2 separate regions of the Homo sapiens genome follow, and region 1 is linked to region 2. Evidence: fine-mapped expression QTL. Tissue or cell type: whole blood. Region 2 holds a variant in brackets; the other region holds the start of a gene. All regions are shown on one strand. Distances are between the middles of the regions. Region 1 holds the start of TRIB2 (tribbles pseudokinase 2). Region 2 overlaps MIR3681HG (MIR3681 host gene).

Region 1 (12,800 bases), 180 kb before region 2:
TTGTGACTAATACCTAATATAAGCTTAGGTAAGAGCTACTGAATGAGTGCATGGATGAATGAATTATAAATGACTGATTCTGGCTGCTGAGTGTTCTGCGGGTAGAATTTTCAAGGCCCTGCCTTTACTGGCATTGAAAATGTCAAAGAGGTTTGCAGCCACCTTCGGAATTCAAGACACCTAATCATACATATTCATTGGGTCACAGAATATCCTGGTACCTGTCCTTTGAGCACCAGATGACACCTTTAGAATAGTAGCTATTTGTTTTCCCAAACACTTGAAAATTGCAATATTCACTTCCTTTTGCCCTCCTAAGATTCCTTCCCCTCATCTGGACCACAGACGGCAAAAAAACGTCCATTCAAGACTTTTCTAGGAAGCTGTTGTTAGGAGCAGTCCATCACAGTACCCAGGTCTGGACAGGATGAGACCTACCTCTCTTCGTCCTTAAAGATGAATTTCCGCAGCTTGAGGTCCCGCAGCACCAGCCCCCCGTCATGGCAGTGGGCCACTGCCGAGGCAATCTGGTAGAACAGTCTGGCTGCCTCCTCCTCTCTCAGCTTCTTGCAGGTGCGGACGAAGGAATGCATGTCCCCATAGCTTCGCTCAAAGAACACATAGGCTTTGGTCTCACCCAGGATAATTTCAGTGATTTGGTTGATGTTACTATGAGCAGACAGGCAAAAGCACGGTGCCAGGGATTCCTGGTAGCAGCTGATATCAAACACCTACGACAGGATTAACAGTAAGACCAAAGTCAGAGGTGCCTCTTGTACAACCAAAACACATAATGCTGCACCTCCCACAGGTATGGGCTTTTGAGATGACAGAAAATATGCTGAACTTGGACCCAGACCACATTGGCCCTGCCTCCTACCAGCTGTGTGGCACTAAACAAGTCACTTAACCTCTCGGAGCCTCCAAATCTTTACGTACAACATGGGAAACTGATACTTGACTCACAGTGTTAGGAGGATTATATGAGAAAATGAAGGTGATAGTGCTTTGCAAAACGTAATGCAGTACAGAAATAATAATTTTCATTACTTTTGTCTCTAGCCCAATTGCGTGTTTATAGAACTAAGGCAAAATTGGAGAGAAAGTGATCCACCTCAATGACATCAACAACACTTTATTTGCCTTCAAAAATAAAAAAAAAGAAATGCACATAAACAGGCATTATACAACACATGAGCAACTAAGAGAATAAACAGCTAGCTTTTGCCCAGTGGTCTCTAATTCAATACTTTCATTTTACAGATATGGAAACTGAGGCTCAGAGAATGAGCCAAAACTCAAGCCCCCAGTGGCAGAGGTAGGAATATGATAGAATCCTTCTGAATAGGGAAGCAGCCTTGCTTCTTCCTCTCTTCCCTCCACAGATATCTAACTCAATGAACCAGTTATGCAATGATTTTCTATGAATCAAAATTAGCCTGCAAAATGCCAACTCATTGTGCGGTTGCTTAAAAAGAAAAGGCACCATCAATACCTTTTGAAACAGACCTAACAGCAATTAACACTACAGAGAATTTTTGAGGTTATATAAAAGGCGCTTTCATTCATTTCAAGACCTCCACTAAATCAGGAATACAAGTCCCTGGGTCTGGAATGTGGTTTTTCTATCTGCCTGGGATGTGGGTAAGATGAATCTATTCAGTGTGTGCGTGAGCCAGGGGCATGCGTGGGTGAGCTTCGCTGGAAAGCATCTGAGGCAGGAACGCCCTAACAATACACTGCATGCTATCAGTTCACAATGATTTAGCTGCCTAAATCGCTTTTTCACTAGTTAGACATACTTTCTTTCATCATCATTTTGCAGTGTGGTAGGAAATATGCTGGACTGGAAGTCGGCAACCTTGAGGCACTAATCCTGGCCCTGCCACCAATAATCTGGATGAGATGGATAAAGAGCTTAGGGTTACTGGACCTCCCTCCTCTTCATAAAATGAAGATGTTGATTTAGAACAGTGTTAACCTTTTTTGGGTCCTGATGTCACATAAAATCTGATAAAAGCTCTGTTCCCTCTTAGCTGACAATGCCCGTTCTCAAATGCATGCACGATACCGGATTCATTTTAAGGGGATTCACGGGCTTTCTGAAGCCCATCCAAAGCCACAGACTGCTATTTAAGAATCCATGAGTTAAGTTGCTCTAAGCTTCAAAAAATTGAAACAAAATCTGTGAGTCAAACAGGGATGTAAAACCTCAAGAGTTGCTGCTAACACGGCCAAGGAAGCAAAGTTAACAGTAATGTTGTGAATGAACCATAACGAGGCATCTCAGAAAAGCGGCACAGCTGCTGCCACTATAACCTAGAATTTAAGAAAGAATACTTCAACATCTCCAGAGACCACAAATCACACACTGATACTGTCAAATGATGACCCAAGAGCAGTGACCTAAGAGGCCTGTTCAATTAGGAATCTGAAATGCTTGAATCAACTTTAACACCCTGAATGCAGGCAACAGAAACCCAGGGAAGCCTCAAAAATTTCGAGGAGTAATAAGCTTTGCAGTGGCTAACGTAAACACTGCATCATATAATGAAGATGCTGTGTTCTGAAATACCAGGTTGCAGCTTCTGTCGCCAGTGCTCACAGAGTTATGATTATTTATAATCTACTTCCTGTTTCCAGGTGCATTTACAAAAACATAAAAGGTGACTTTTGCTCAGCACTTTTAGCCTATTATCCTGCTCCACTGCTGAAAAACTGGAGACAGAATTTTTAAAAAACTAACATATTTGTGGCAGCTTCAAATGTAGCCATACCTTTTGTAGAAGAGACCAAATTCCAAGATGGTGGACAGAGTATGAAAAATAAAATAAGTACTTATGTTTTCCCACACGAGAAGGAGCCAAACTTTTATTAGTAGCTATCAGGGGCATTTAGGGGCTTGGACTGGTATTTAAACCATCATCTTCACGTGCAAAATCAAGCCACAAGCCTGGTGCCAGCTTCTTTACATGTTTAATTTGGAGCCTTGGTTATGTAATGTGACAGTTCAGATAAGGCAGTAAGATTAGGCCATCATTAATAACATTTGCAAAAAAAAAGTACCCATTCTGCCAAGATAGTAATTATGTCAATCTGCACAGTAGCTACCAGTATCTCCATGAAAACATACAGTTAAAGACTCCTTAAAGTGCCTTCATTCATCTAGCAAAAGTAGGTACATGGAGACAATAAGCAGCCTTGATTATTTTGTTTAAATGACTCTGGAATCTCTATTCCTCCAAATAGTGTCCTATGGAATTCTCTACGCAGTCCCCTATAATAAATAGCATCTTTACATTTGATCTGTTTTTGCAAAGAATTTTTTCATTGGTCAACACACAGCTAGGAAACATGAGCCTTCTATTCTAAGACATCAAAAGGAACTAGATTCAATGTGTAGATTTCACTGAGCCTTAAAGTAAGCTAAGAGACCACAGCATATATATCTCTCAGGGCAGTTCAGAGAAGCAGCCTTATAAAACTCTCTTGGAGCTTCTTCGGAGATACACAACTATGCTTGCATAAGAAGTCACCCACATCATCTATGGTAAAAAGTCAGGAAAACAGAAGCTGCTGTGTCTTAAAGGGATGACCTCTGTCAAGCAGAACAATGATACTGCACTTAAATCCACTTGCAGCCACACTGTAATTGGTGAGGGGCTGATTCAATCTTTGCAATAACTAAACCAGCAGATTAAGTCCAATTTGAGGCCAGAGCACAAGTCTGCAAATGACACTGTAAGGTCAGCCCAAAGTGAAATATGTCTTGCAAAATCTGGAGAAAGAATGAGCAGAGGCCAGAGTCACCTCTGATTTTAAACAAAGAAGTAACAGCCAGATGCCCCTGCAGAATTTGGCTGCAGAGTCCCTATACTTAAAAGCATCTCCAGCCTTTGAAAAATATTAAAATGCTGTACTGAAGTTGAGCAAAAGGAATGAAAATATTCACTGCTGGGTGATTGTGCATATTTCATACAAGAGTGGCAGTTCTGTGGAATTCATTCATTTCAAAGGATGACTATCCTATTGTGCAACCTTGCAGACTTCTGAGAATTCAATCCAGCTACTGAATTTTGGTTAACTGGGCACAGTTGCTCTGGGTCTCAATAACTTAGAGAAGATGCAAAATACCAAATGCTCAGTACAAGCAAAGGGCAACATTTAAAGAGTCTCCGATTTCCCCCTAAGGGCTGAACTGAACAATCGCAAAACTGACTGGAGATCTCCACTAAACCCAAATTTTGCAATGAAATACTCCAGTCCACTAGGAAATAAGGCAAGTCCGCAAAGTAGTCTGTGGTGAATGGCAAAAGCGCGATGTGTTATTTGCAGCACAACCGTGCCCAGTGACCATTTCAAAGGCAGAATGGGTCCCCCACTCTCCCCTTACCCCCTCAAAAAAAAAAAAAAACAGTCAGCAAATCTAAAATTAAGTGACAAAGAATCCTTGATCTAGGTCCAATTCTGGGTAGTAGTATGCTCTATTATAGTTATTTTCTTTTTCGCAACTATTTCGCCCCTCATCCACTTGTCTGGGGCCCGGTGGGTGCACACAAAGATACACAGACACACATATACATAAACCAGTCACTGTTCAGGGTTAAAGACAAAAAAGGAAACCGAAGTGTCCATCGCAGTGGTATTACCACTGCGGATCCCTAGGGCTCCAAACGGGAGCCTCTTAACCTTACAGGCAAAGGTGTTGTTCAGGGGGGCACGGAAGAGAGGGGATGAGCAGACAGGGAAGTCTAGAGATGGGGAGAGAGACCAAGACCAGAGAGAAAGACCCAAAGCATTCACTATTCACCAGAAAGTGCTCAGGCTTTGATTTCCACCCCAACCCTCCTTTCAAGGCTCCAGGCAGAAGAAAGGTCTTTGTAAACTCCTTCCCTGCGCTGGGCCCCTGGGCTCAGCCGAAGGGGGCACCTTTGTGTGTCTGTTTTAAAGGGCACCTTCGGAACAAAGGTTTAACACCTGCCCGCTGCTAAGAACAATGGCTGCGAAAAGAACGAAGTCATCAGTCTTAAAATTACCGGGGGATTCCCTAATCCTTGTTGGAAGGGGAGGGGGCTAGACACAGGAAGAAATCCCCCCCGGGCAGCGGGACCCGGCCTCGCGCAGAGAGCTCCTGGAGCCTTCGGTGCACGCGTGTCCGTGGCCCCCGCGCAGTCCCGCCGCCCTCTCCTCCCCGGGCTCTCCCCGAAACGCCCCCACTGCCGCCCGCCCCATTGTCTGAAACGGTCTAAAAACTTCGCAACTTACCGAACCTGAGCAAATAAATAAATAAACCCATTTAATAAGGCCACGGTAATTATCCCGCGAATCTCCCTCTCCCAGACTCGAGGGCCTGGCGCCCTCCCGCTCCCTCGGGCCCCTTCCAAAGACAAAAAGCAACCCACTGGCCCTTTACCTTGCACACCAGCTCCTCTCCGCTGTGCAGATGCACGGCACGAAAAACGTGGTCTCCCTCCAGAGGTTCCAACAATAAGTATTTCCCGATACAAGAAACGCAATGCGACAAGTTCGGAGTCTCGGGCGGGCTCGGGGAGCCGAGGTTCGGGCTGAAACTCTGGCTGGGCTCCGCGGACCTTATAGACGACAACTCTTCGAAATCCTGGGTTTTGTTCCGCGATCTCCCATATCTCGCTATTGTGATGGGGGTAGACCTGTGTATGTTCATGAGTGTGAGGATCGCACACGACAAACAAAAAAAAACCCGCTGGAGAGATGAGTCGCTGGCGAGTGCGGCTGCAGGCGCCTCGGTGCCACTGATTTTAAAAGGGAGCGAGAGGGGAGGGGACAGAAGAGGGGCTGCGTGGAGAAAGAGTTAGAAGCCCCCAAATGGGCGCCGCCGGATACCTCGTCTGCTCCGAGCCCGGCTCCCGGGGGTCCTCGGTCGGCAGGCAACTCGGGTCTTTTTGTTACCCCAAAGCAGTCGGCGATGTGCAGAATCGCCGCACTTTTAGTTACTCTGTGTGTGTGTCCCCGGCGTGGATCTGGATGAGTACCCGGGCTGCTAAGGTGCGGAGCTGCAGCGCCAGGGCTCCCGACGCGACCCCCAGGCCGGCTTCCGAATCGCAGACGGGGCGGAGGAGCCCGCGGTAGTTTGTGCAGTCTTCGGGGAGCTCACGGCGGCGACTCAGTCCCAACGCGTTAGAAGCCAAACAAAAAGAGAAAGGAAACAAGCACGGGTCTACCGGCTGGCGACGCACGGCAGCCAGAATCCGCGCTGCACCCCCTTTTTTTGGTGGAAAGGGTGGGGGGCGTGTAAGGGGGGGGTGCGGGAGAGGGCAGTTACCTACGTTTTAACTGTAGATGGCGTCTGAGGCTTTTCCAAGATCGCGAGCTCTCCAAAAATTAAACAAACAAACAAAAAAAAGAAAAATTGCAAGGGAGCATTTAACTTGGTGCGGTCAGCGCTGCCAACAAAAGATTGCAAAAGCTGGGCACAGAGTTGCGGCGCGGGCTGGGCGCAGGTACCGCGACAAAGCCCTGGGCTCGGCCCGCCGCGCGGAGGTCAGCACAGGCTCATGCTGTCGCCGCTCGCTCGCGCCCCAGGTCTTCCTCCGAATGCAGCCAGACGTGCAGGAGAGAACGAGGACAGATCGGCGGTCTCCGATTTCGCCGGCACGAGCTTGCGGGGGTCCTGCGGGCGCTGCAAGGGGAGCTGCGTCCCTGGCCCTTCCAACGCGCGGCGTTCCTTTGCCCCTTTCCCGCTGGAGAACTGGATCTCGTCCTGGAATAATTTGCAATCACCCCGTCTCCCCCTACCCCGAGACCAAATTGCCCGGTGGGGTTTGTTTTGGAGAAAATTGACGGCTTGTCTCCTCCTTCTTTGATTTCTTGCTTGCCCCCCCCAGAGAAAAGAGGGGACCGTGTATTTAAAAATTAAAGGGGACGGCCGACGGTGCCCGAGGCCAATCCCCGCGCTCAGCACGCCCGCATCCCCCGGCGAGGCGGTATTAATAGTTACTTACGTGGCCGGGGATCTCGGAGCGAGCGGGGCCGTGAGTGCGCGTGTGCGCGCGCGCGCCTCGCTCGCGCTCGGTCTCCCCATTCAATGTCACCGACACATTTCCACGGAGCCTCCGCCCCCCCCCCGCCGCCCCCGCGACTGGCTCAGCCCAGAGCCGGCCCCGCCCCGCCCCCGCCCGGGCCCCCCTCATTGCGCCGGGCGCCCATCAATCAGCCCCGCCGCTGCCAGTCCTCGGGCGGCTCCCCGCGCCGCTGCCATTGCAGCTCCGTGCCGGGGGCGCCAGCACCGGCCTCGCAGCTCCCTCGCCCGGCCGGGGAGGTAAACAAAGTGAAATATCCTTCCGCGGCCCGGGGCCCCGGGCGCAGCACCCTGGGTGTCGGCTGCGAGCCGGCTGCGAGCCCAGCTGCGGGCGGCTGGGCCGGGGTTACCAGCAGCGACTCCCGAGCCGTTCCCCACACGCTGCTCCCGCAGCGCCCGCTCCAGCTCTTCGTAGCTCGTTCATGTTCCTGGCGCTTTTCCCCAGAAAGCCAGGCACGCTCTGAGCATTGGGCCCCCAGGCTCAGATGTGGCCCTGAATGAGGAGCTCTGTTTTGGAAGAATGCGCTTTCATCGGTATTGCTGCCTGGAGTTTCGAGAATTCGTTTCATGGTATCTCTCCGACATCCTCCTCTCCATTTAAAAGGAAATCCATTGCTTCCTTTTAGTTGGTGTCACCGCTTGCCCCCGATCCCCACATCCTGGGCTTGTATTTCTAGTGTTTTCAGCAGAAGAGGAACTGAAGGCATCTTTTGATTCAGGTCAAATTTAATCACTAATTCTTCCCTTCCCAGTGCATTGCCTGGAGGGCCTTGGAGGCCAAGCTAGACAAAACTTTGCACCCACACCTCCAGGGAGCGCTGTTGGGTCCTATCCAGGGTGCTGGGCGTCCTGAGTCCTCTTCTGTTAGCCAGGTGAAGGCTGCAGTTTCACGCCCCACTCCACCCCCCATTTCGCCACCCCCCCCGAATTATTCGTAACTTCCTTGGGAGATTCCAGTCCGCGGGCTTGGACAGGAACACCGGAAGCAAGGGGCTTGAACTCAGGCAGAGGCTTCAAACGCCAGCCTTGATCTAAGATATCCTGGTGAATGAGAAGCGATCTAGTAGAGGACAAACTTAAAAAAAAAAATCCCAAGGAACTGAGAAAGGGGAGTTGGGACGACTCCTGGAGCCCTCTGAGCTTTTGCATGCGTGTAGTATATTTTCCACTGGAGGAGGGGACTAAATTATTGTCCACTGTAGGACACTTTCAGTAAAAGAAGGGAGCTATTTATAATTATGTCCACTTGGGACAACAGTCACTCTAATGATCAGGAGTCCTGGGAATGTGGCCAGAGATGGAGAGGACATTGACTATAAAGCTTCCACCCAGCAGCACAGAGTTAAAAGGAAGGTTAAGAAGTGGACCCGTGCCTTCCAGCACCTCTCACCATCCTACTCCCCACAAACCTGCCTAGGATTCAGTCCCAGATCCCAGCAGAATAGATCTATTTCCCTAGGCGATCACCAGGACCACTGACCGAGCAGGGTCCCCTAATCCAGTCTTACCCCAGGAAGACACTTGGCCTGTGTTAGGAACAGTCTCGAAGCAACCCCTGCTGTTGAGTCAGAAAGAGAGGTGCCTAGCCTCCTCTATGCAGTGGCCAAGAGAGCTTTGTAATAATTAGGGGTTGGGACACCTGTGTGCTAGCCCTGGCTGGGTCTCTGATTTCAAATGGAAATTGGGTGAAGACCTTGTTTTTTCTCCCTAGATCCCTGTTTCTTCATCTGTAAGATGAGAAGCATAATACCCGCCCTGCTCACCTCATGTGGTTGCTTTAGAATTATATTTTCAATTCCAGGAAATCTATGAAGGCTTACTATAAGCCGGGCTCTGTGCTGAGTGTTAGGGATCCAATATGAGTAAGATCTGGTCTCTGCCACCCAAGAGCGCAGGGTCTAGCCCGGCAGAAAGACTGGGAAACAAATAATGTCATTGTGTAACAATGTGGCAATTAGAATATCAAGGCCTCAAGGGAGCATGGAGGAGGGAATGACTTTTCCTGAACGTCAGGGAGTTTTCCCAGAAAATGTGATTTTTATTACCTTGAACTAATCCAGAGCAAATATTTATTGAAACCTACTATGTGCCAGACACTGGATATGAAGATACAATGATTTGAAAAATATATTTCCTGTCTTCATGGACCTTGAAATAGCCCTATGAGTCATAAAATAAAATGAATAAGAGATTGTTGTTGGCATTTCAGGCAGAGGGAAGGAATGTGGAAAAGCAAGGGAGTGGGATGTTCTGAAATTTCTAGTAATGCACCATGTTCCAGCAGTGGCAGCTGGGAGCAGTGGCCAGGCATGTGGCTGGCAAAGTGGACTGATTGGGATTAGATCGGGAAGGGGTTGATAGACACAACTAGCAACAGTGGTCTTCCTAGTAGAGGAGATGGCGAAGCACGGCTGACATTGGGAAGTGACACGGTCGTTTGTGGGATTTAGATCCTGCTGCAGATCACAGGGAGTAGATACTACTGGGCTTCCAAGGAAAGAGAGAGCAGAAATAGTATAAACCTCTAGTGATGCTGTACAGGATTAATAGTGAATTTATGACTTGTGATGAAATTACACAGTGGCCATTCTCCTGCCTGTCCTTGAAGGCCAAATTCATGGCTTAGTGCTATGTTTGTTGATTAAATTCACGGAGCTATTGCAGTGCAGGATAAATTAGATAATTTGTATCAAGTGCCTTAAATATTTGTTATGTCTGTTAACTCGGTAATTCTTAGCAAATTGGAAAAGAAAAAAGCATGTAGTAGGAAGATCTGGGTGGGGATCTTTATTCATTCACTTTTTAGCCATATGACTTTGGTCAAGTTTGGAATATTTTAATCTATAAAGTGAAATTACAATAGAAATTTTGTCTTAATGTATAGCAATTATGGAAGATGTGTATAAAGCATCTGGCACAATGTCTTGCCTATAATAAAAACTCAAGGCCGGGTGTGGTGGCTCACACCTGTAATCCCAGCACTTTGGGAGGCCAAAGCGAGCCGATCACGAGGTCAAGAGATCGAGACCATCCTGGCCAACATTGTGAAACCGCGTCACTACTAAAAATACAAAAATTAGCTGGGCATGGTGGCACATGCCTATAGTCCCGGCTACTTGGGAGGCTGAGGCTAGAGAATTGCTTGAACTTGGGAGGTGGAGGTTGCAGTGAGCCGAGATCACGCCACTGCACTCCAGCCTGGCAACAGAGCAAGACTCCATCTCAAAAAAAAAAAAAGCAGCCGTTACTATTTTACTATTGTTGTTGTTGGAATTCATCCACAGAAAGCAATCTAACATGAAGTAATAGTAATAGATAACATGTTTACAGTATTGGCAAGGTGTGTGGGAGTTGTTAAACATAGTTATAAGAATGGTCCTATACAGTATGCAACAATAATAAAATATGTGGCAATTAAAAAAGGATTATATAATTACAAGGGGATATATTTAAACCAGTCTACTCTGCAGTAGGACAAATCCAGTTGTCTTGGGTCAGTAACATGTTGTGCATGTTTTCTAGAACATTCTTTATTCTGCAATATATTTAGCTGCTCCTTCACTCACTCATTCACTTTATTGCTCATTAGTTCATTCATTTACAAACACACAGTGGGCCTCTGCTAAATGTGAAGCCCTAAACTAAGTGCTGTGTGTGTTGATCAAATAATAATAAATGCTTTTGGAGAAGAAACCATAAGACTACTATATCACTTTAAGGCCTTTACCATATGTGACAACATTTCCCGTGTTTCAACTCGGGCAGCAAGTCATGTGTAGGCTCAAAACTATTTGATAAACTTCTAGTTTAAGTTGTAGAGAGTTTCACGTCATGCTGATGTGCACGCAGACTGTGGCCTGCTGAACTCCAGAACATTCCATTCTCACTGACAGCTCTGTGAATGAAACCCTGAAGTTGTGCAAAATGCAGTTGTCCTGGTCTGTTTGGGCTGCTATAATAAAATATACGCTGGTGGCACATAAACAACAGAAATGTATTTCTCACAGTTCTAGAAGCTGGAAAGTCCAAGTCGAGGCATCGGCCCGTTTTGTGTCTGGTAAGGGCCAGAGTCCTGGTTCATAGATGGCACCTTCATACTGTTCTCACGTGGTGGAAGTGGCAGGACAGCTCTCTGGGGTCTCTTTTATAAGGACACTAACCTTATTCTTGAGGTCTCTGCCCTCATGACCTATCACCTCACAAAGACCTCATGTCCTAATACAATCACGTTGGTGATTATGTTTCAACATGTGAATCTGGGGGGACACAAGCATTCTGACCAAGCAGCTGTTAGAGCCTTAGACATAAACCCATTGGCCTGAAATTCAGGAACTTCCCAACAACTTCGTCTCTCACTTTTGGTTACCTACCGGCCAGCTGCTCATCACCCCATGGACTCCAGGCTCCTACTTTTGTGTTTATGACTTGGATCATTTCCTCCTGCGTATTTGGTGCCTCCATGTTTCCCTGGAATCTTTTCCAGGATGTTCCCTTCACCTGGCTGCACTCCCTCAGTTCAAGGTTACATTCCCCAGTTCTCTTATTTGGCTATGTGGATGTGTCAGGTTTTAAATGACATGTTCAAAATCCAGGTGACATGGTTGTGCTTGGACAATAATGAAGAGGTTTGTGGTGTTAATGCCTGAGCTCCAATCTAGATACTCCTGATGATGGAATCTACAGATTGCCTAGTGTCAGTCAGTAAAGGTAGCCAAGAAGATAAGTGCTCCCACTTACTGCTTCATGCAAGATTTAACCAATCCATGAATGGGAAACCCAATCAGGATACATCCTGCTCTGTAATGTTTTAGAAGGTGCCATATCTTAAACTGAGTCCTTCACCATTGCCTTAGTTCTACTGTTAGTGTTACATTACTTTGCATTCAATTTCATACTCCCTTGCTGCCTTCCTTGAATGTTCTGCTAACTTATGAAGAGGTTCTGTCATCCATTTGTGTAGGTAGAGAAGAAGGAAGAGGTTCAGGGAAGAGGTGCACACCTTCATAGCTGCAGCCACTGGTCCACGTGATCCACATGATCCTTTGCTTTGAAGATAGTCATGCTGCCTAGCTGCATTTCGGTGGTGATGGAGTCAGTGACTTGCTGCTATGCTTTGGCTCGTGTTGACTGTGTTAACTCCTTGTCATAAATTGCCCCATCACTTTGAGAATATTCTCTGTTACTAACTTTAATAATAGTTGTATTTTAATTATGCCTTTTGAATGCTAGACCAGCTACTTTCTTTCTCTCTAGTTCTTATACAACCCTTTGAATTATTACTCCATTTTATGGATTGAGGAAACAGGACCCAGAGAGACTAATTAATTTATTCCATGGTAGCCCATTACTCAGTGGCCCTGGAGGTCATGTGTATGTGCATGTGTGTGTATGTGCATGTGTGTGTATGTGCATGTGTGTGTATGTGCATGTGTGTGTATGTGCATGTGTGTGTATGTGTATGTGTGTATTGAGAAGAAAGGGGGCAGGAGAAAAGTTTATTCTGAAACTATATGATTATTTTTTACTATATCACATTACTTGTCATTAGGCTTTCTAGAGTTGACTGAACCTTTGGATTGAATGGCCCACGTAAAATCCTTCCATAATGGTGATTTCCATTCTCAATTTTTTTAACAGCTCGTGTTGGAGAAGCAGCTGCTTATTTACAAGGTATTTTTTAGTAGTACCTATTAAAAGGTCACCTTTTAGATGTCACCTTTTTATGCAGATGTACTTCCCTGTT
Region 2 (12,800 bases):
TCCTTTGTTTTTTGTTTTTGAGAAAGAGTCTCACTCTGTCACCTAGGCTGGAGTGCAGTGGCGCAATCTCGGCTCACTGCAACCTCTGCTTCCCAGGTTCAAGCAATTCTCCTGCCTCAGCCTCCTGAGTAGCTGGGATTATAGGTGCCCACCACCACACACGGCTAATTTTTATACTTTTAATAGAGACGGGGTTTCACCACGTTGGCCAGGCTGGTCTTGAACTCCTGACCTCAAGTGATCCGCCCTCCTCGGCCTCCCAAAGTGCTGGGATTACAAGTGTGAGCCACCGTGCCCAACCTAGAAGCCAACTCTGAATGGTGTTATAATTAGAGGTATAGTTGAGTTTCATTCAACATATATTTATTGAGCACCAGGCATTTTATACATAAAGATAAATGAAGCAAAGTGTCCTTAAGCATGCATGGTATATGAAATCAGGAAGATAAACATGTAGATAATTGCAGAAGGTGTGATACATACTCTATGTGCACACAAAGGCTGTGAGGACAGAAGAACAAAGTGTAAGTAGCTATGCTTGGTCGGAGGAAGGGTTCAGGGAAAGCCACATGGAAGACATAGCACTGGACTGGGACCAGGACTGAAAAGATGATGTTGCCTTGGCAGACAACTGGAAAAACATCATAGGCAGAGAGAAAAATGCCTAAAATATCTACCAAGGTGTTTTGCAACCAGTTATGACCCTGATTCTGATTTTCATGCTTCCTACCTATTTCACCTTGGGTAAGTGACTAAACCTATCAATCATTTAGTCTTTCTTATTTGTAAATTGATTCTAATAACACCTTTAAAAAAGGTATTGACATTGACATTACATTGTGGGATTTCACTAATCTAATGCTTGGTGTATAGAAGGTACTCCATAAATTTCAGGCCTGAACTAGCAGAGAGGCATGGCTTATTCATGGAATGCAAAGGACAGGAGGAGGGCAGCATAATTCAGTGTTTTAATGAAGGTGCCCAAGGGTAAAACCCCTGGGAATTGAACAGTGTGCAGCATGAGTAGATGCTGATGTCTGTGAAAGAGACATCTTTCACAGGTTTTGTGGTGGTGTGCTTGTTTCTTGTTTAGACCGTCAAACTGAATCATTGTGGTGCCTTTCTCCCCTCTCTCCAGACAACTATTCCCTGTTCATGCTCTTGAGGACGTTATCGGGTTTTTTGGAGCTGAGATCTCTCGCTTCAATGTATGTGGTGGCCATAATTTTCTCAGCATAGCAACCTGTCCACCAGGACAGTGTCCCGTTGCTGGGCTTTCAGCAGCACAGTGGATAAGCTCTGCAGTTGACAACCATCCACCCTGGCTTAATGTTTCACATGACTGAGGTTGTACTGGGGAAGCCAAATTCCAAGAGGAGTGAATTATGTACAACTGTTCCAAGAGCATCTGTTCAAGCTCCCGTTCTAGGGCCCCGCATACTTAACTCCACACTTGTGTACCCAGCACACAATCGTACTTTTGACCCTGGAAAAAATCATCCAGCAGACAACAGGCGAAATAAATATCTCTCACCAGGTACCTAATGGAAAACAAGCGGGTGGCTCATGTTCACTGTGCAGCTATCTTTATTTTTAAGGTCTCCTGAGCAAGAGGGCCAAAGTCCAAACTTCCCAAATTCGTAGTATTAAGTTACTGTTAATAGGACTGCATTTAAACTACTGCACTTTAGGCTGCCCCTCCAGCTCGTGGTTTTGTTTTTTAACTCCGGGCTTGGGTTTGGAGCAACAAGGTTAGCCACCTGAAACAACAACATTTGCCTAATCTAGTGTGATCTATTTCCCATGCGAAGATTGCTTTCTGTGTTATTTTATTTTTAAAGGGAGTTAACATTTAACGTACACGATAGCTCGTTCCTGTCGCCCTGAATGGCTCTGTTTGTTTCAGCACGTCTCTCTACCATGCTGTTGAGCCCCTCATTTCTTAAGGTTCAGGAAACTCTAAATATTAATGAGGGCCAAAGACCCATGCATTTGGCAACTCCTTCCCCACCACACACTCCATTAACCACAATATCCGAAGGCATTTTGTAAGTTGGGAAACTTGACTAGGAAAAGTATAGCACCATTGCAATTTGGAATAATGGCATTTTTTAAAAATGTCATTTATGCAGAAGGAATTGGTAGAATTGGCTGGCCAATAGTTTATATGAAGCAACTCCAAAGATTTATAGAGATGAGTGGTTCTCAAAGTGATCAGCGGTATCAGCATTGCCTGGGAAACTTGTTCGAAATGCCAATGACCAGAGCCTACCCCAAATCTGCAGAATCATAAACTCATCAGAGAGTCTGAAGTGGGGCCTACCAGCTGGTGACTCTGATACTTGTTACAGTTTGAGAACTACTAACATAGACATAACCTCCTACCTCGTAGAGCCGTAATAATCAGCATTAGGGAAACACAAGTGTACTTCAGGGAGCTTAGGACTGAGGCCCAGACAGTCCTGAATTCTATTCCCAGTTCTGCCACTGAATAGATATTGACCTTAAGTGTGTTTTGCAATATATCCGGGCCTCCTATTTCTCATTTATAAAATTATTATAGAAATGCATTCCATTCTACTTGACTCCTTGAGTTTTGATGCTATTAATAATAAATAATACATTTAATAATATTTTTAAAAATATTTTATTTTAAATAATAAAATGAATATTGCTCAAAGTGCTTTGAAACATTGAGAGGGCTTCCCATGGTGACCAACCTGTGGCAGCGCTTTATTGCAGAGATCTCCTTAGTTAATCAGTCTCTCCAGGTATATGGGGATTTCTGAAATTCCAGACAGATAATCTTATCACAGTGCTAAAGTATTCTGTCCTATAAATGGCAACAACAAAAAGCCATTCATTTCAAGTGGTTAGTAGACCGATAAAATGAAGGAGGTGTCAGTGGAACTTGAAGGATGAGTTTGGCAAGCAGAAATAATAGCACGTCCTTCTTGGAGCCAAGAGGGAGCAACCTGTGTTAACTAATGACAGAGCTGAGGATATATAGAGCAGAAGGAGTGCATGATTGTGCATAAATGCTGGTGCATGCATGTGTGTGTGTGTGAGAGAGAGAGAGAGACAGAGGAGAAGTAAAAAAAGGAGGACAGTGGCAAGGTGGGAGCATGCAGCTCCCATCTGTACCTAATGGTACTTTCTCCTTTAGAGAGTACTGCACTCCCCTCAATCCTCACCCAGGCTGTTAGGTTGACACAGGAGGAAACTGAGGCCCAGAGGACATAATTTATCTCCTTCATTGATACTGGCATGAGAAGAAGCTGAGGCAGAAGCTGAAGGAATGGCCACAAGAGCCAAGGATGGGCAAGGAGGACCTTGATGCTTCTCATCCTGCTGGGACCACTGACCACATGTGGACCTCTCTGCAACTTGAGCAAGGGAGTGTCAGCCTGGCTGACAAAGACATAAGCAGAGCTGGCCAGGGCATTTCTGTGCATGTTCATCCCAGTCTCAGCAGAGAACAGTTTCAATCCATGGTAATGCTCCAAACTTGGTCCCCCCAACACTTCCAGACACCCTTGCTAAGTCAAACACTAAGAGATGCTGGACAGTATTTATTTTTGTCTCTCTGTCTCTATTTATTCTTGTTGAAATAATAATATTCCAGTTAGACCATTTAAATAAAAATTCTATCTCCATGATCTTCAATACATAATATTTTTCGCAATCTTTCCTTTTATTTCTTGTCCACGGTTTTTTTACACACTTGTAATCATAACACACATATCCTCTTGACCCTTCTTTTTTTATTGCTATTATGTAATAAACAATTAGACTTGTTGCTATGGTGTTTCCACGTTATTCATTTTAATAGCTACATAGTATTTTATTCAGAAAATGCACCATAAATTATTGAACCATTTCTGTTTTTTTAGTTGAACTCCCATTTTGTACTAAGACATTCATTGTAGATATATACAATAATGCACTCCATGTTTACTATGCCTTTTGGTACTTTGGTTAATATTTATTTCCTGTTATGTTTTGATAGAATTTGGAAGGTAAGCATCCTATTAAAAATAGGACGCTCGTTGTTATCATAAGAAGTTCCACAAACATTCCGAATACTGTGATGTTCTATTTATATCCATCTACTCAAATACATGGACACTCGGCTCCCTTTTATGGAGTTTTGTGCATTTTGCCTCTTCTCCCTCTCCCTTCCCATTCTTCACTAGTTTAATCTTGGGAGTCTGACATCTTTGCTTAAACACCCCCCACACACACACCACCAGCAGTTTGCTTCTTGTGTCCTGTTTCTAGTCAAAAAGGAGTTAGATTGCCAGTTTTCTTTCTCTGCTTTTCACTTTTCCTGTTCTCTTTTTGCTATAATAATTGCCCATCCCATTCCTTTCTTTTTAAATTTAGCACTTGATTTCATCACTCATATTAAATATTCTTTTCAAGCATTTTCCCCTCTATTCTGTTCTTGTTGTTAATGGATTTAGGGAAATGTGGGAGTCCCTGGAAGGAAAGAGCACATCAGGGCAGCATGAAAGATAATTACAGGCCCCATGTCTGAGGTCGCATTCTTTACTTTGGCCACTATTAAATGAGCTTATTTACAACCCTCAACTTTATCCCTCTCTTTTAAAGAGACGCATATATACATTAAATGTAATACCCTCACCCCCAGCTTCATTTAATTTTACTACCAATAATATTCCCTTTTCAAGGTGTTGGGTCTACCATTTACTTGTTGAATTTTATTTTGTAAGCTGTCTCAATTTAGTTTTTGAAAGGAATGGAAAAACAAAAGAATGGACGTCTACATGATCAAATGCACATAGATTTCACAGTGAAAAAAATCATCGAAAGACCTTCCATGATGTGGCAACTCAGATACAATTGATCTTTAAAACCCAATTGAACAGAATGCCTTAGTAATTATTATTCAGAATACCAAGGCCCTGGCCCATGGTACAATTATCAGAAGCTCCATTTTTGATATTTACTGCATGTTAAGAGAACTCTCTGGAGAGGAACTGAAATAAAACAGTCTCTGGAATCACTGACGAAAGTTTCCCCTAAATGTCTGCTACATACTCAATGCGGATGAGCTGTGGTCCTTGTCATGCCTTCTCACACAAGAGGAAAGATGGTAGAATGGGAATTTCTTCTTTTCCTTGAGTAGCAAAAATTGGCCTGCTATTTACCAAACCCACTCTCTTTTTCTCCTGAGCACACAACTAGGAGACATTTTCAATGTTCCCTGAAGTTAGGTGAGGTTACATGACTGAGTCCCGGCCAATGAGATGTGTACAGAAGTGGCAAGTGCTACTTCCATGGTGGTCCACAATAGTCGATTACATGTCATTTCCTATGCTCTTTCCTTTAGTTTCAGATTCACCCAGATGCCTTGGATAATTTGTTTTGGAAAACATATATTGAAGATATCAGAGCCACAGTATGACAGAAGACTAGGTCCCAGAATCACAACTGGAAGGAAAGTCATGCACTAATGAAGAAAACAATTCTTAAGGCTTATATGAGCTGAAAACAAACTTCTGTCATGTTGCTGCCTTTATCCATTTTTAAAAGATGTTTGTCATCAGTAGTGCTACTCTAATAAAATACATCATGAGCACAATAACTTAAACTGGTCTCATTATAAATCCTAGATCTCCTATCATCACAGTTTAAATCCAGACTACTGGTGTGGAAAGGTATATAAATGCCTTCCAGAATCTGAAAGGCATAATTTTGTTCACTTATTTCAGGTTTTACTAAGGATTCCATACCCTTGGCTTCTGTTGAATTATTTCATACACACTATTTTGTAAAGTAGATAGAAGATGTGCCTAGGATTTAGGGTTTTTAATGTCTTTCCATCTTCCCAGGATGCCTATATAGTAATCATTTAAAATACAAGACAATCCAATAAGATGACATGAAGCTTTCCATGAACTCGAAGAACCAATGAGAATAGATCTCTCTAAAATATTGGTGAACAAATGAATACTTGCCAGAGTCAGAACAATGAATTTTAATTGAATTATTGCACCCACCAGGCATTCCAGAGCCAAAGCACTTTTCCTTTTTTAAGTAACAATTTTGTCTTTTAAAAAGTGTATTTCTAGCTTGACATAAGCATGACTTTTTCTTTCATGTGTCATGTATAAATGGAGCAATTTATTTTCTTTGGACTCACAGAGTAAATCCTCATCTTTGCTTGTGCTGATGGGGTGCAGGCATGTGTGGGAGGAATTCTATGAATGTGGAGCTTTTCCCGTGGGTGCAGAGAGAGTTTGATGGGAGCTGATGAGGTGTGTGTGTGTTCTTCAGACTTATCAACCACCACATGATGCTGGAAGATGAGCCAGTGAATTTGTGGGTGTTGAGCTTGTTGGATATTCTGGATGCAGGTTTTTTTTTTTAATTTACTATTTAATAAAACCCAGCTGACAAGCTTTTTTTGTAAATCATGTTTATGAGATATGAGTCAGTGATGACATATGCATAAGCGATTCCAATGAAAGGAAAACCTTTAAGGCAAGTAGTCCTTGGTTTTGTGGGAAGCTTAGCCAAGCATGTTGCTCTAGCCTCTGGGGTGAATTCTTTCCTAGCTACAGTGAGACGAGAAAATCTTCAGAGCACATTCCAAGATGGGGCTTTTTTTTTTTTTTTCTGTGAGAAGGTGAAGACAGAGACCAGTTTGGTTTGGTGGTTGTCATTCCGACTTCCCACACTGTCATAACTAGGACATGGCTGTGAAAGAACAGCTTGAAGATGAAGCAAACCCTGTTCTAGTAGCCGGGGAGCCTTTGTTTAGTTTTAGTTTAGTTTTTTGTTGTTGTCGAAGCTTTTGAAAGTCTTCTCTGAAAGTGGTTCTGTGTAGTAGGGGGGAGAGACAACTTTGTTGTTTTCTAAGAAAC[A/G]AACAAAAAACCTGCTTCTTTGAATCTCCCAAATGCAAAAGCAAAGATACTTTCCTTGTACCTTCCTCCAATTCCTGCCACGCATGTTTGGGTCTCATCAGACTTCTTTCCTTACTGTGCCATCCAACGAAATGTCATGGTCCTTGAATGGCTTTATTAAATATCAGATGGCAAATACGTATGCAGTCATGAGGCACAGGAAATAGCAAACCATCCTGATATCCTCTAAATAAGCTGAACATTTCACTTGAGGGAAGGTATTGCAGATATTCCAGATTGAGGAAGAGAACACACCCTCTATAAATTGAAACCTTTCATTACAGTTTTTTAAAATCTCATATTTTCATTAGGAACTGGAAATAAGATCAATTTTCTCTTGGGAACTATATTGAAAAATATAAAGAGACAAATATAACCCAGGCAGAGAGGAATTGATGGGCACTCAAGTAGGAAATTTTTTTTAAATAAAAACTTACCTGCCCATGGTATGGTTAAGCTTGACTCAACTGCAAAATGATTTTTGTCATTGTTAGATGCCATAAGGTATTATATTAGCAGCCTAACCTACATGAGAGATTGTATGACTCAGGAGTTCAAACAGATCATCAATATTATGGCTAGAACCAAGGTTTTTAACAGTTCAGGCTACTTTCAGGAAAACTCTTTCCAAGTGTCATATGTATAAAATGTTTGGAATTCTTATTTAATGCATTCTATTATTTAGAGGGCTTGCTTCTATTATTCAGGGGCTGAATAGTGCTTTGACTTAGTTATCTACAAAATGCAACTTAAAATACAAAGGAGGGAGAGAAAGACAGACTTCTGTCAGAGGTATCCTCTGCAGTAAAACCTTTGTATTTTACTTCCTAGAAGAGCCCAGGTCTTGATCTGAAGGATCTTGAACTGCCCCAGGCATGACTGTGTGACAAAGCAGTATATTAAAACAGTTGAGCATAACCACTGGAGAAAAACTGCTACTTTTTGCATGAGTTTTCTGCATCGAGTACAGCAGCTATATCCTACTCAGTTCTGAGCATAAAAGTTTAAAAGTGAAATTGACAATTTGGAATTTATCCAGAGAAGAGCAACTAGTATGTTAAGTATTATAAAACCAGAAAACTACTTCAAATGAGGAGATAACACTGAAAGAAAAGGAGACATTTAACTGAAGAAAGAAAACTGAATGGGGACCCTAATTCCGTTTTCAAGTATAAGGGAACTGCCAAGAGAAAGTAAAATTTGATGCTTTCTAGGTAGCTCCATAGAGTGGAAAATTAAGGAGATTTCAGTTGAATGATTATTTAACTGATAATTAAAATAAAATGACCTGTCTCATAAGTGACTTCTTATCACTGGAAGTAATCAACAGAGATCCTTGGTAATCCTGACAGGGAAGCTATAGGTGACATTTACAATGGATGAATGTGGTCAGATTGTTTCTATGGCTCTCTTTCTGCTCCAGCCTTCTGCAATTTCATAAACCATCTGTTGTGGCTTTTTCGTTGTTGTCATTTGTTTGTTTTTAAGACAACCCTATTAAATTGATGTAGAAGAGCCAAGATTAAGAGACTGACAAAGTTTATGCTGAAAAAGCCCTGTCAATGGATTTGATGACACGTAGATGTTACGTGATATAAGCACAGTAAGCCTTTCCTGTTCTCATTAGTTCCTCATACTGATTATGTCCAAGTTTCTCTGAGTAGGTAGCCAAACCATCATGAGCTTTGGAGGTTTTCTCCTTCTCACGGATGTCTTATTAAAAGAAAATTCACCAGCATCTAGCAGAAAAGTACTGTTTTCCGTATTTTATCATCTAAAGTGCCATACGACTCAGACATTGTATCACCGACTTACGCCTCACAAAAGACATATCAGGTTGTTACCATTCCCTTTTTGCAAATGAGAAACTGAGTCTCAGTGAAGTTGAGGGTCATCTGCCAATAGGCTTTTATGGAAGATATTTTGGAATGGAGAGAAAAGTCAACTTTCTTGTGTTTCCAGGATGTTACTTCAGCATGTCCACTGGATACCTAGGTATCCAGTAGGATACTACGTATCTGGATAGATCAAGGATACTGAGATGCTACGTATCTCAGCAGATCTGGTGGAGAATTCCTTAATTTACTGGAAAAGAAAGACTAAGCCAACAACTCTTTGTGAGTATGACAAAAAAGATTTATGTTTTTGCTGAATAATTTTGCCTGTGTTACCTACACATTAAGGATTTTATTCCTCAGTAAATCATCTGTAATAAACCAACCATGTAAAATTTCCTGTCACTATAATCTTGATGTCTTAAAAATTAATATCCATGTGGATTTACAAGTTTAAAGACTTTTTCAGATGAAAAGTCTCATTTTTGAATTATTTTAAATGCCCAAGAAATTTAAAATACCATCAAAAATATGAAATACTTGGAATAAATCTGATGAGAGATGTGAAAACCTTTGAAAATTGAGTGATTTTAAATATAATAATTGACAATTAGAGCTTTCTCTTCTATGATTGCCTAATTTATTCTTTGACTATATTTTTTGTCTCTTTTTTATCATTTATGGAAATTCATCATTTTGTCTGACATAGCCATTTAATTTTTTCCCAATTTTGGTATATCAATTTTCATATTTCATGTTATTTTTTGTCATATTACTTATTTTGTTTTTTAAGCATTCAGGTTTCAGGTCTTTTTTACAATGTTTTACCACACTTAGATTACACTTACAGAGCTTTATTTTATTGATTTTTCATAACAGTTTATAATTTTTTTGGAATTTAATTTTTAAAAGGTATTTTCTGAAATATCTTTTCAGTGTGTTTCGTGTACAATGTATTAAACAGAAAATCATTTTTCAGTTCAATTAAAATTTTATCTGAAATAAATTAGATTATCACATTCTGGATTTTATTTATTTTCACTGATCTATTTATGCATTTATATTCAAGTGCATAAATGACATTATTATATTCCAAATAACATGTTTAAACTTTGTGTTATTTTAATACATCAAAAGCACAAATCTTTCCACAGTAATTTCTTATATCACAGTTTTATTTACTCTGTGTTATTATCCCATTGCATTGGAATTTTAAGAACTTTTTATAGAAATCTTTGTCTTTTTCCTTCATCACTGAAAAAATGAAATTCTTATTGGAATTATATGAAAATTTTATGTATGTTTTGTTAAAATGAGCATTAAGATATCACAATTGTTTTCAAAAAGTATACATGTTTTCATTTCAAGAAATTTTATATTTTTCTATATAGGTCTTATATCTTTTGTGTGAAATACATTCTTAAATATTTTATAGCTTTGGCATATTTTCACAAAAAAAGTTTTTCGGCAGGGCACAGTGGCTAATGCCTGTAATCCCCGCACTTTGGGAGGCTGAGGCAGGCGGATTACCTGAGGTTAGGAGTTCAAGACTAGCCTGGCCAATATGGTGAAACCCCATCTCTGCTAAAAAATACAACAATTAGCTAGGCGTGGGCACTGGTGCCTGTTATCCCAGCTACTTGGGAGGCTGAGGCAGGAGAATCACTTGAACCCAGGAGGCGGAGGTTGCAGTGAGCCAAGATTGTGCCATTGTACTTCAGCCTGGCCAACAGAGCGATACTTCGTCTCAAAAAAAAAAAAAAGAAATTTTTCAGCTCTTTTTATAGCTGATTATTTCTAGGATTGGGGAAATCTATTGATATTCGTGTGCCTTTAATTCAGCCCCCACACCAAATTAATTTATTCAATCTAATCTTTTTTTGGCCAATCATTGGATTTCCAAGACACATAATCACATCATTAGAAAAAAATATTAATAAAAGGTATTTATACTAATTATTTAATACTGTATTATTACAAACATTGTACTTTACCAGGAATGTTGAATAATGGTAATACAGACAATAGACATCCTAGTTCTGGAATTTAATAAGAGCAGTTTTAGCACTCCTGTTGCTAGAAATATGTTTTTTGTTAGTGTGTGATAAGTAAACCTCATTATGTTAAATCATTTTCTTGTGCACATATTTTACTAAGATATCTTTTTATGGCTTTTCAATTTTATCTAGCATCTTCTTAGGATCTGTGAATATATGACAATATGATTTTATTCTTTAATTTGTTGAATTGTAGTATTTCTGATATTAAACTATTCATGGTTTCTTATAGTAAGTTATCCTGTAATAGTTTCAAAACTCAAGTTTCCAGGAGATAGCGCCATTTAGGAGCTCTCAAAACCCAATGTGATACTGTATCTACTTTTCTGTAACTTACATTTTTGTGGAACACTCTATTTTTGAGGTTCCGTTAAGTCCTTTAATTTTGCTATTGTACAGTAGTGTTTAAGTATCTAAAAGTTGAGGTGCGTATACCCGTTTGGGTGAAAATATAAGGCATTGTTTTCAAAATTGGATAAACATTGAAATCACCTAGAAATATATATTTTTTTAAAAGACAAAAATCCCAGTTCCTAGACTTTATCACAGATCAGTGACTTGAGAATATTGGAAAAAATAATCCAACCACCAATATTTTTGCATCTTGTTTTATGTCCTTCCATATCCCCATCAATGTGTAGTGTTGCCAAGTTTTTTGTTTGTTTTTGTTCTTGACAATCTGTTAGGCATAAAATTGTATCTCGTTGTCATTGTAATTTTTATTTACGTAATTACCAGTGGGGTTGAACATCTTTCCACACGTTCCTTGACCATCTGTTTATTCTCTTCTTTCAACTGCCTTTCAATTTCCTTCACGTATTTTTATTTTGAATAGCTTTTCTCTTCCATAATAATTTGTAGAAGTTTGATTTTAAAATATTCTGAATAATAAGCTTTTGTCATATATATATATATGTTGATCACATATTCTCTAATTATTTTAGTTTTTGTCTTCCTTTTAGTAGTTTCTTTTTAACACCAGAAGTTTTAATATTCAACTAGATTAAAATTACCACTCATTCTTTGTAGCTCTCATTTTGAATCCTGTTTAAAGAACACATTTCAAAATCTGAGACTATAAAGATGATCTCCAGTATTTAATCCTAAATACTGGAAATATTTATGAAATAAATAAATAAATATGGTGTAGGGTGGAGATGTCTGTGGTTTCTTTTCAATATGAATAACTTATATTTCCCTGTTCACTTAATTTATATAAGATTTAACATGTTTTATTGAAAACATGAAATGTTTTAGCAATTGTGGTGTTCAAATAAGCTACAGCAATATTTCACTGTATGAATAATAATTTTTGTATTTGGTAGATCTAGTTCATTGACATTGTTATGTAGCTCAAAAATCATTTTGTTTATTTTTGACAACTTTTTCTTCTACATACGTTTAAAACCAGCTTCTCTGGATTTTTGAAATATTCTTGGGATTTTTTTCACTCGTTTTGAATTTCTTGGTTACTCTAGCAATAATTGCTGATTTTGTCTTGGGGGTTCTTACATAAATTTTTAAAGTTCTCCATTTATTAAATTTTCTTTAATAAAAATAAAGTTTAAATTGAAATTGAAATAAAGTTATAATTTCTTCCATAAAAATAAAGTTTAAATTGAAATTGAAATAAAGTTATAATTTCTTCCAAACGCTCACATACACTGTTTGTTTAGATTCATTCCTAGATGACTTTTAAAAAAATATATTATTGTAAATGGGACTATCATAAAAGTTTCTCATTATATTATTTTGGTGATATATAGAGGAACATTTTGAGTTCTAATCTACCAAAATTGCTGAACTTTGAAAAAATTTTAATAATTTATATGAATACTTTGGGTTTCTTTAGGCAGATAATCACATCAACTGCAAAAAGTTGTGATTTTGCTTTTTAATTTCCAATTGAGGTGTGTCCTACTTACTTCCTTTATTTCACTGTCTAAGAGTGTCTTGTCCAAAAGAAACATAAGTCA

The links.
Region 1: TRIB2 starts here. The variant in region 2 is fine-mapped to the expression of TRIB2 in whole blood (TOPMed, PIP above 0.99).

Annotation. Positions count from the first base shown.
Region 1 is chr2:12,711,191-12,723,990 of GRCh38, reverse strand. TRIB2 (tribbles pseudokinase 2) reads right to left here and starts at 7,055. Exons shown (of 3, transcript NM_021643.4): 1 at 5,414-7,055; 2 at 439-731. The coding sequence starts at 5,683. It overlaps LOC124905974 (a long non-coding RNA gene), which reads left to right and starts at 7,233. Exons shown (of 2, transcript XR_007086222.1): 1 at 7,233-12,800. RefSeq lists enhancers at 4,589-5,226, 6,588-6,657, 6,506-7,145 and silencers at 7,098-7,157, 7,248-7,467.
Region 2 is chr2:12,528,534-12,541,333 of GRCh38, reverse strand. All of the region lies in intron 4 of MIR3681HG (MIR3681 host gene), which reads right to left. Among named protein-coding and RNA genes, the nearest start is that of TRIB2, 180 kb to the left of the region's middle. The variant A/G (reference allele first, on the strand shown) is at 6,894.